2 separate regions of the Homo sapiens genome follow, and region 2 is linked to region 1. Evidence: fine-mapped expression QTL. Tissue or cell type: whole blood. Region 1 holds a variant in brackets; the other region holds the start of a gene. All regions are shown on one strand. Distances are between the middles of the regions.

Region 1 (5,315 bases):
CTGATAGACTTGCCCAACACCAGGTTGCCACAAACCTTCTATTTGTAAAAATGTAATCTGCAAAGTGCAATAAAGCGAGATGCAGGTGAATGAGTTATGCCTGCATATATTTGAAATTTTTTCACAATAAAGTTTTTAAAAATGGAGATTTGCAGAATATGGAATAGTGTGTTTCAAAGAGTGGTCTATATAGCATTTGCTTTGGAGTCACCTGAGCTGCTTATTAAAATGCAGATTCCAAAGTCCACTCTAGACCTGCTGAATAAGACTCTCTAGGAGAGGATCCTACAATCTGCAGTTGGGTGATTCTTGCACTCAGGTTTAAGCACCACAGATGTCAAGAGCCTTGCCGAGGATTATAGAACTAGTACACATCACAGCACATGTTCTAGATCAGGATCCGCAATACCCAATCCACACCCTTAACACAAGGCCTCATGGTCTAAATTGAATCAGGAACCTCCCTCAAGACTTTTTACTTGAACTACTGTCAAGTACTAAAATATATTATTTTACATTAATAACCTTTTGATTATAATTGCAATACCCTCAGCACTCCTTGCCTATCGCCTTGTAAGATGTGCCTTTGCTCCTCCTTCACCTTCCACCATGATTGTGAGGCCTCCCCAGCTATGTGGAATTGTGAGTCCATTAAACCTCTTTTCCTTTATAAATTACCCAGTCGTGGGTATGTCTTGAAAATGTAGAAATGAAGAAAAGTATGAAGAAAAATTTAAAATCCTTAGAGACACAGTTAGCTAACTGCTAAATTTCAAGCAAGAGCTAACTAGGTGGGGAGACATTATTCAGGGGTACCCCTAACAACCCATCACTTTCTGACTGCTTTCACCATCTACCCCTGCAGTGAATCCTGTGCCTACCATTCCTCTTGGCACTGAGAGCAAGGCAGATGGATCCAAAATCATTATTCTTCTCATTAAATCTTTGGATGTGTCTTCTCACTCACAGACACCCTCTTGACCACAGAATTGCACACACATCAAATGCAGATATGCACATGTGTCCCTGATGTAACTCACAAAATCTAACATTCATACTTATATATTTTTTAGTCCAGCACAGATGCTAACCACTTTTTTTTTCTCTCTGTGCCAAGGTTCTATCTTTTCCTTCTTCCACCTAATTTTCCAGGCTTCAGAGCATGTTGGGGCTTTCAGGTCCCCAGTAAGAATTGTAAGTTATATAATCACTCCTAGTCTGGAAAGCTGATGGGCAGGCAGGTTAATTTAAGAGCTCTAGTTTAACCCAAGAAAATAAGAAAGTTAGAAAAAATAAACTTTTTTTTTCTTTTTTGAGACGGAGTCTCACTCTGTTGCCCAGGCTGGAGTACAATGGCACAATCTCAACTCACCGCAACCTCCGCCTCCTGGGTTCAAGTGATTCTCCTGCCTCAGCCTCCCGAGTAGCTGGGATTATAGGCACACGCCACCACACCTGGCTAATTTTTGTGTTTTTGGTAGAGACGGAGTTTCATCATGTTGGCCAGGCTGGTCTCGAACTCCTGACCTCAGGTGATCCACCCTCCTCAGCCTCCCTTTCTCTTCTTAGTCATTAAAAACCATGGCTATGGCTGGGCACAGTGCCTCACACCTGTATTCCCAGAACTTTGGGAGGCCAAGGTGGGTGGATCACCTGAGGTCAGGAGTTCAAGACCAGTCTGACCAACATAGAGAAACCCGCGTCTACTAAAAATACAAAATTAGCTGGGCATGGTTGCGCATGCCTGTAATCCCAGCTACTCGGGAGGCTGAGGCAGAAGAATGGCTTGAACCCAGGAGTTGGAGGTTTTGGTGAGCTGAGATGGCGCCATTGCACTCCAGCCTGGGCAACAAGAGCAAAACTCCGTCTCAACAACAACAACAACAACAAACAAAAACAAAAACAAACAAAACCCATGGCCGCCTGGCTGACTGGGTAAGCAGCTACTTGCAAGTTTTAGCTACTGTACACAAATACATCATCCTACTACAGAGGTCTGCCCTAAAGTGTATGTGTGGGTTTTTGTTGTTGTTGTTGTTGTTGTTTGGTTTGGTTTTGGTTTTGGTTTGAGACAGGGTCTTTCTCTATGCATCAAGGCTGGAATGTAGTGCCATGATCATGGCTCACCGTAGCCTCCACCTCCTGTGCTCAAGCGATCCTCCTGCCTCAGCCTCCCAAGTATCTGGGACAGTTAAAGTGTGTTTCACTGCATGTATACAGCTGGATGAGGTAAAGTTAAGTCAGAGGACAAGAGGACTCTTTAGAGAGTCCACTTCTGAAAGGAGGGTTAAAGGGACAGATAATGCTTCTGTCAAGGATTCCTCTTCCTCCCTTTCACCCCAAGCTGGTGCTCAGGTGGGGAGGACCCTAGTCTTACCAGCCCTCTGAAGTAGGTGGGAGAGGATGTGGTCCCCTCATTTTATTCTTTCTTTCTTTCTTTCCTTCCTTCCTTCCTTCCTTCCTTCCTTCCTTCCTTCCTTCCTTCCTTCCTTCCTTCCTTTCTTTCTTTCTTTCTTTCTTTCTTTCTTTCTTTCTTTCTTTCTTTCTTTCTTTCTTTCTTTAGGGAAAGAGGGAATGGGATGCCAGAAGCCTATAGCCCACCCAAATACTAACCAGGCACAACCCTGCTTAGCTTCCAAGATCAGACAAGATTGCGTGTTTTCAGGGTGGTATGGCCATAGACCTCTTATTTTCATAACGTTCCAGAGTCCTTATTTTTGATAAGAAGTTTGGCAAAGGAGTCATGCCATCAGTAGGATCCTTTCTGATGGTTACAAATAACCAACTAATTAATATTTGCCCAGGACATAAAGGAGGAAAGATAATTTAAAACAAATAATTCCTCAACATCATATGGCATTGCATCTACACATTTCACATTTTCCAGGTTAAAAAATAAAAATAAATGAAAACAATATCATATGGCCCTTTAGTTTCACCCAGTTTCCCAGAGACCTTTACACCATAGTTTCTGAAAAATGAGTCAAAGGTACAAGTTTGTCTCCTTCCTTCCACTTTGGGGAATTGGGGAATTGTTGGTAAGTGAAGTAACACCTAGGTGGGAAGAAGAGGAAATCATTGGTCACAAGATAATTCACAGTCCATAAAGTGGAAGGATGACCAAATTCTCCAAAACCTGGGTGGCCAAAGAAAGATTCTATTAATACAACTTTGAAAACTGACTTCAAACTCATTACACCCAGATCTGACGTGAACTGAGTGTGGATGCCCA[G/A]ATGCTTGGAGTAGAGGTGGGCAGAGATGGCAGGAGTGGAGGTGGGCAGGTTCAGTGGAGTGCCTAGGAGGTAGTGGGAGGTAAGGGAAGGAAGCAGAAGTACCTTGAGGAATGATGAAGAGTCCTCACAGCACGATGGCTTTCCAAGGCAGTAGGTCCTGACTTCCAGCTCCCCTCTTGGCTTACTTTCTCCTTTCTGCCCATACTTTTCTCTACAGTTATCAGAAGCTGATTATCTGGAAGGCAAGGGGACAAGTGTAGCTAGAGCTGGGGCTGGGCAAGTCCACTGCCACTCGGCCAGGTCACCATTTTTTGAACATCTTCATTGAGATATAATTCACAAACCATAGAATTTACCCCTTTAAAGTGTAAAATTCAGTGACTTTTTAGTACATTCAGATTTATGCAACCGTCATCATATACATATTTTTTTAAGATAGAGTCTTATTGTTGCCCAGTCTGGAGTGCAGTGGTGTGATCTTGACTCACTGCAGCTGCCACCTCCCGGGTTCAAGTGATTCTCCTGACTCAGCCTCCTGAGTAGCTAGGACTACAGGCGCACACCACCATGCCCAGCTAATTTTTTTTTTTTTTTTTTTTTGGTAGAGATGGTGTTTCGCCATGTTGGCCAGACTGGTCTCGAACTCTTTTTTTTTTTTTGAGACGGAATCTCGCTCTGTCGCCCAGGCTGGAGTGCAGTGGCGCGATCTCTGCTCACTGCAAGCTCCGCCTCCCGGGTTCACGCCTTTCTCCTGCCTCAGCCTCCCAAGTAGCTGGGACTACAGGTGCCTGCCACCACGTCCAGATAATTTTTTGTATTTTTAGTAGAGACGGGGTTTCACCGTGTTAACCAGGATAGTCTCGATCTCCTGACCTCGTGATCCGCCTGTCTCAGCCTCCCAAAGTGCTGGGGTTACAGGCGTGAGCCACCGCACCTGGCCCTCGAACTCTTGACCTCAGATGATCTGCCTGCCTTGGCCTCTCAAAGTGCTGGGATTACAGGCCTGAGCTACCAAGCCCAGCCCATAATTAATTTGAGAAGATTTTCATCACTCCCTAAAAAATCTCCATACCTATTAGCAATTAGTCCCCGTTTCAACCCACCTGCCGCAGTGCTTGGCAACCATGAATACACTTTTCTGTATCTATAGATTTTCTTGCCTATACTGAACATTTCATGTAAATGGAATCATACACGTGTGTCCTTTTGCATCTGGCTTTGTTCACTTAGCATGTTTTCAAGGTTCATCCATGTTGTGGCATGTGTCAGTACTTCATTTTAACACTGAATAGTATTTCTTTGTACAGATATACTGCACTTGATTTTCCATTTATCAGTTGATGAACATTCATGTTTCTACTTTTTAGTTATTATGAATAATGTTGCTATAAGTTATTCAGGTACAAGGTTTTTGTGGATATAGGATTTCTTTCTTTTTTTTTTTTTTTTTTTTTTGCAGCTAGGAGTGCAATTGCTGGGCCACATGGTAACTCCAATTTTAACATTTTGAAGAGCTACCAAACTGTTTTGCAAAGTGACAGCAGCATTTTGAAATCCCAGCAGCAGCTGGGCATGGTGGCTTATGCCTTTAATCCCAGAACTTTGGGAGGCTGAGGCAGGAGGATTGCTTGAGCTCAGAAGTTCAAGACCAGCCTGGGCAACAAAGCAAGACCTGGTCTCTACAAAACAAAACAAAACAATATATAGATAGATAGATAAATAAAATACATATATATTTATATATACAGTAATCAATACATACACACACACACACACACACACACACACATATATGGCCAGGCGTGGTGGTGCACACTTGTAGTCCCAGCTACTCAAGATGCTGAGGCAAGAGAATTGCTTCAGCCCAGGAGTTCAAGGCTGCAGTGAGCTATGATGGCACCATTGCACTCCAACCTGGGCGACAGAGTGAGACCTTGTCTCACAAATAAAATAAAATAAAATCCCACCAGCAATGTATACAGGTTCCAATTTCTTTATATCCTCACTGACACCTATTGTTTGAGTTTTTATTATACCCATTATAGTGGGTGGGTAGTGGCATCTCGGTCACCATTTGTGACG
Region 2 (5,000 bases), 110 kb after region 1:
ATTCATGTACAAGTTTTTGTATAGACATATGTTTTCATTTCTCTTATATACCTGGGTATAAACCTGGAAGTGGAATTGCTGAGTCATATGGTAACTCTATGTTTAACTTTTTGAGGAACTGCCAGACTGTTGTCCAATGTGGCCACACCATTTTATGTTGCCACCAACAATGTATGAGGGATCCAATTTTGCCACATTCTTGCCAATATTTGTCTCTTTAATTATAACCATCCTAGTCAGTATAAAATGGTATCTCATTGTGGTCCTAATTTGCATTTCCCTAATGACTATTGATATTCAGCATCTCTTCATGTGCTTATTGGCCATTTGTGTATCTCTAGAAAAACATCTATTCAAATACTTTGCTCACTTTTAATTGGGTTGTCTTTTTGTTATTGCATTATAAGTTATTTATATAATCTGGTTACTAGATCCTTATCAGATTTGCAAATATTTCTTCCATTCTCTGGATTTAAATTTCTTGAAATATCCTTTGAAGCACTATTGAACTACTTTTTTTTTTTTCCACCAGTTGTCAAATGATCCTTTATTGAAATATTTTCCTTTGTGCTTAACTGGCTGGGCATTCCACAGAACCACTGTTGATATCATCTATGATGTCATGAGGGTGGCGGCCATCAACATTACAGCCCACAGACTGGGCAGTCCCCAGGATCTCTTTAATGGTGCCAGAGAGTCTATTGAACTACTTTTAACAAATATTTATCTGGGCATGGGGGCATATACCTGTAATCCCAGCACTTAGGGAGGCCCAGGCAGGTGGATCGCTTGAGCCCAGAAATTCGAGACCAGCCTGGGCAACATGGCAAAACCCCATCTCTACAAAAAATACAAAAATTAGCCAGGTGTGGTGGCATGTGTCTGTAGTCCCAGCTACTCCAGAGGCTAAAGTGAGAGGATCGCTTGAGCCGGGCAGGTGGAGACTGCAGTGAGCTACGATGCACCACTACATTCCAGCCTGGGCAACAGAGACCCTGCCTCAAATAAATACATTCATTAAAAACACAAATATTTAAAAATTTTAAAGCAAACCAGATTAGAAATGTGTAGTTGGTTTTCATTTTTATTTATTTATTTATTTTGAGATGGAGTCTCGCTCTTGTCCCCCAGGCTGGAGTACAGTGGTGCGATCTCGGCTCACTGCAACCTCCACACCTCCCGGTTCATGCGATTCTCCTGCCTCAGCCTCCCGAGTAGCTGAGATTACAGGCATGCGCCACCACGCCCAGCTAATTTTTGTATTTTTAGTAGAGACGCAGTTTCGCCTCGATGGCCAGGCTGGTCTTGGACTCCTGACCTCAGGCGATCCGCCCACCTTGGCCTCCCAAAGTGCTGGGATTACAGGTGTCAGCCACTGTGTCCAGCCACCCTACAGCTTTAGGAGTAAACGATTGTATACAGACCATGTTCTGAGGCTTCCAAACCGAGTCTTGAGTTCATTAAGGGATCCATCATAGTGATAGCTATAGCTGTTACAGCGTTTACATGCCAGGCGCTGTTTGGGCACTCTACATGTATTAACCTATTTAACTCTCATAACAATCCTATGAGGCAGAGACTGTTATCATACTCATTGCACAGATGAGAAAATGGAGGCAGAGAGGGAGGTTCAGTAATTTGCCTGAAGTCAAAGAGTAGGGTACCAGAGACGGGCTCCAGATTTTGTTGCTTTCAACCACTTGCTATACTGCCAAGGTGGAATTTTGCATTTCAAAGAATGCCTACTCCCTCGCTTTGGAGAGAGTAGTGTTTTAATGATGTCTGCACTGTGGACATTTTTCCTGTCCTTACCGCTCCAGAAACTAGTAGAGCTCCCTGTCCAGGTGTCTTCGTTACACATGTGCCTTCCTAGTCTGGAGTCCACGGCTTCAAGATCCTCTCTCCTCCCCGTGGGTCTGACCGAGGCTTTAATGCTCTTTGAAGTAACAGCGAAATAGCCCTTTGTCTCCCAAGTGGAGTGGTTCTAAATTTCTGATAACCAATGAGCGCCGAGGAACCGCGGATTCCGCCCAGGGAGGCTCAAAGCTGAGCCGTGGGTGGAGCCTGCGGAGGGGGCGGAACTGAGCCGCAGCGGCGTACCTACTGTGTGCCGCGTGCGCTGCCTGGAGCGGAGCTATGAGCTGGACCTGTCCGCGTTGCCAGCAACCTGTTTTCTTCGGTGAGGCCCGGGCTGCGGAGGGGGAGAAGATGGGGCGAATGGGAGCCGCTGGATTCCCTGAGGACGCGGAGGGCTAGCCACAGTGTAGTCCCAGACACCCTTTTCACCTGCAGCGGCTGGTAGTCTCCGCACCACCCGCTCCCACTCGGGTCTTCTCCCTTCCTCTGAGAGCTCTGTGGGGAGTGTGAAACCGGAGCGGGATGGAGCTGGCCTCCTGGAGACACTCATCTCCAGGAAGCAGGGCAGGCCAACCTAATTCCCTAGAGGGCCGAAGAGGGAAAGGAGGGGCCCTATGCTTGGACAGGCTCCTCGCAGCTCGGTTCCACTTTGTCCTCCACAGCTGAGAAGGTGAGCTCCCTGGGCAAGAACTGGCACCGCTTCTGCCTGAAATGTGAGCGCTGCCACAGCATCCTGTCCCCTGGCGGGCATGCAGAGGTAAGACCTGGCCAGGGAGCACTGCCCTGTTTACATCACTGCCTCCCACCCCCCAGGCACCAGCCCCCAACTTCAGCACTGGAGGCCTGCCAAAGGGAACCTCAGTAGCCAACCCCAAGGCCGCCCACCTGGTGGACCCCACACCAGCCAGGAATTTGGGAACCTGGGTCGTGACTGTGGATCCCATGGTTTTGGGGATCAGGGTGAGTGGGAAGCAGCGTCACCTTCTGAGCTGCTCTTGCTCTTCCTCCCTTGACCACAGTGGAAATGCTGGCATGCCAGCCCATCCCCCACCCCTCCCAGGCCCACCAGACTCAGCCAGTGGACAGACACACCTGGCAGCCTGTCTGGGGTGAAGGCCTGTGGGGCATGGCTCCCGCTGGCCTTGAGTAACCCACTTCCCTCTGCTTGTGCCCAGCACAATGGGAGGCCATACTGCCACAAGCCATGCTATGGGGCTCTCTTTGGACCCAGGGGTAAGTACCAGCCTTAAGGGGCCATGGGTCAGCAGAACCCTCCTTGTGGCTGGGAGCTGGGGGCTCAAGCCTGACCTCCCCTATTCTCTCTTCAGGGGTGAACATTGGTGGTGTAGGCTCCTACTTGTACAATCCCCCCACTCCCAGCCCTGGCTGCACCACTCCTCTCAGCCCCAGCAGCTTCAGCCCTCCCAGGCCAAGGACTGGCCTCCCCCAAGGCAAGAAAAGTAAGGCTGGGCTCAGCTCCTCCCAGTCCTCCTCCCGACCCTTCCCCAAGCTGGAGCGGAGGTTGGGCCAGGTGGCAGTCTCCTATCCAGCCCTCTGCTTCACATTCTCACAACTTCATTCTTGGCAAAGTCTTCTCTATCTACTCCCCGCTTTTTTTTTCTTTCTTTCTTTCTATTCCCTCATGTGAGCTGCTGAGTTAAGAGGTAAATTGTTGGGAGGCCGAGGCAGGTGGATCATGAGGTCAGGAGTTCGAGACCAGCCTGGCCAGCATGGTGAAATCCCATCTCTACTAAAAATACAAAAATTAGCCAGGTGTGGTGGCTCATGCCTGTAATCCCAGCTACTTGGGAGGCTGAGGCAGGAGAATCATTTGAACCCAGGAGGCGGAGGTTGCAGTGAGTCAAGGTCATGCCATTGCACTCCAGCCTGGGCAACAGAGCGAGACTCCATCTCAAAAAAAAAAAAAAAAAAAAAAAAAGAGGTTAATTGGGCAGATGGCATTATCCCCTCTCCTCGTGTGTTACAGGTGAGGAAAGTGAGATCCAGACAGGGCAAATGACTGTCCATCCACAAAGCTAGTCAGAGGCAAAGCTGGCCAGGAACTTAGGTCTGTCCCAGGCCAGGGCCATGGAAGGAATGATCTAAAGGAGAGGAGTCATTGGGATAAGGCCAGCCTCTCATATTCTTCAACTTTTCTCCTCTGGTCCCTGTTCTTTCCCTCCATTCCCTGAAGTAGGCAATGACACTGTGCTCCCCAACACCTGACACCCGTGCTGTGGCCAGCTCCTATATCAGCTCAAGTTTCCTGAGGATTGAGTTGCTAACAGGGTTGGGATGGTGGGTACGTGAGCCCCTGGGAGGATGAAAAGGAAGCAGGAGAAGGAAGCAGATAGTCCCTAATACACATAGGGATGGGGCAGGAGGTGGAGTCAGAGGGGGCTCAGCTCTGGGCCTGTAGAAGGCAGACTCTTGGGCGCCTGGGTGGGGCACTCTGGAATGAGCATGGCTTTTGAAAGAGGACAGCACCATATGCAGGCAGGTGCTGGTGGGCATCTCCACCTCAGACATAGCCAGGGCCTCTTCCCCTTTAAAGGCCCTCCCCATATGAAGACATTCACTGGGGAGACCTCGCTGTGCCCTGGCTGTGGGGAGCCCGTCTATTTTGGTAAGTAACAGTGGAAAACTTGGGGAGGGGGATACAGGGTGGGCAGCAAGGGGGAGGGAGGTGATCCAAGGCAGGTAGGTCTCCCTACTCTACCCCTAGAATGGAAGCATTACCACTTCTTTCCACCACCAGCTGAGAAGGTGATGTCATTAGGCAGAAATTGGCACCGACCGTGTCTGAGGTGCCAGCGTTGCCACAAGACCCTGACTGCTGGGAGTCATGCTGAGGTGAGCAGGGCAGGAATGAGTGGTTATGTTGGGAGGAGGCTGGAGATGGGAAGAGAACCAGGCTGAGACAGCTCTCTTTCTCTCTGTGTCTCAGCATGATGGAGTCCCCTACTGCCACGTCCCCTGCTACGGCTACCTGTTTGGCCCCAAAGGTGGGCAGCCCCATCCCAGACACTGGGATGGCATGTACATGCCTGAAGTATGGCATGTACATGGTCTGTGGGTATGTGTGGACAACTTCCCCTGTGGTTAAGCATACCCTGGCCCCCCCACCAAGTTCCCTCTAGGCC

The links. PIP is the estimated chance that this variant, and not a neighbour inherited with it, causes the effect.
Region 2: it holds the start of CRIP3, and the variant in region 1 is fine-mapped to the expression of CRIP3 in whole blood (TOPMed, PIP above 0.99).

Annotation. Positions count from the first base shown.
Region 1 is chr6:43,415,462-43,420,776 of GRCh38, reverse strand. It overlaps LOC105375065 (a long non-coding RNA gene), which reads right to left. Exons shown (of 6, transcript XR_007059585.1): 5 at 3,336-3,468. Among named protein-coding and RNA genes, the nearest start is that of ABCC10, 9.4 kb to the left of the region's middle. The variant G/A (reference allele first, on the strand shown) is at 3,233.
Region 2 is chr6:43,305,929-43,310,928 of GRCh38, reverse strand. It overlaps CRIP3 (cysteine rich protein 3), which reads left to right and starts at 2,103. Exons shown (of 8, transcript NM_206922.3): 1 at 2,103-2,179; 2 at 2,520-2,614; 3 at 3,033-3,090; 4 at 3,186-3,317; 5 at 4,412-4,483; 6 at 4,616-4,710; 7 at 4,805-4,862. The coding sequence starts at 2,137. It also overlaps the pseudogene RPL12P47. RefSeq lists an enhancer at 2,586-3,443.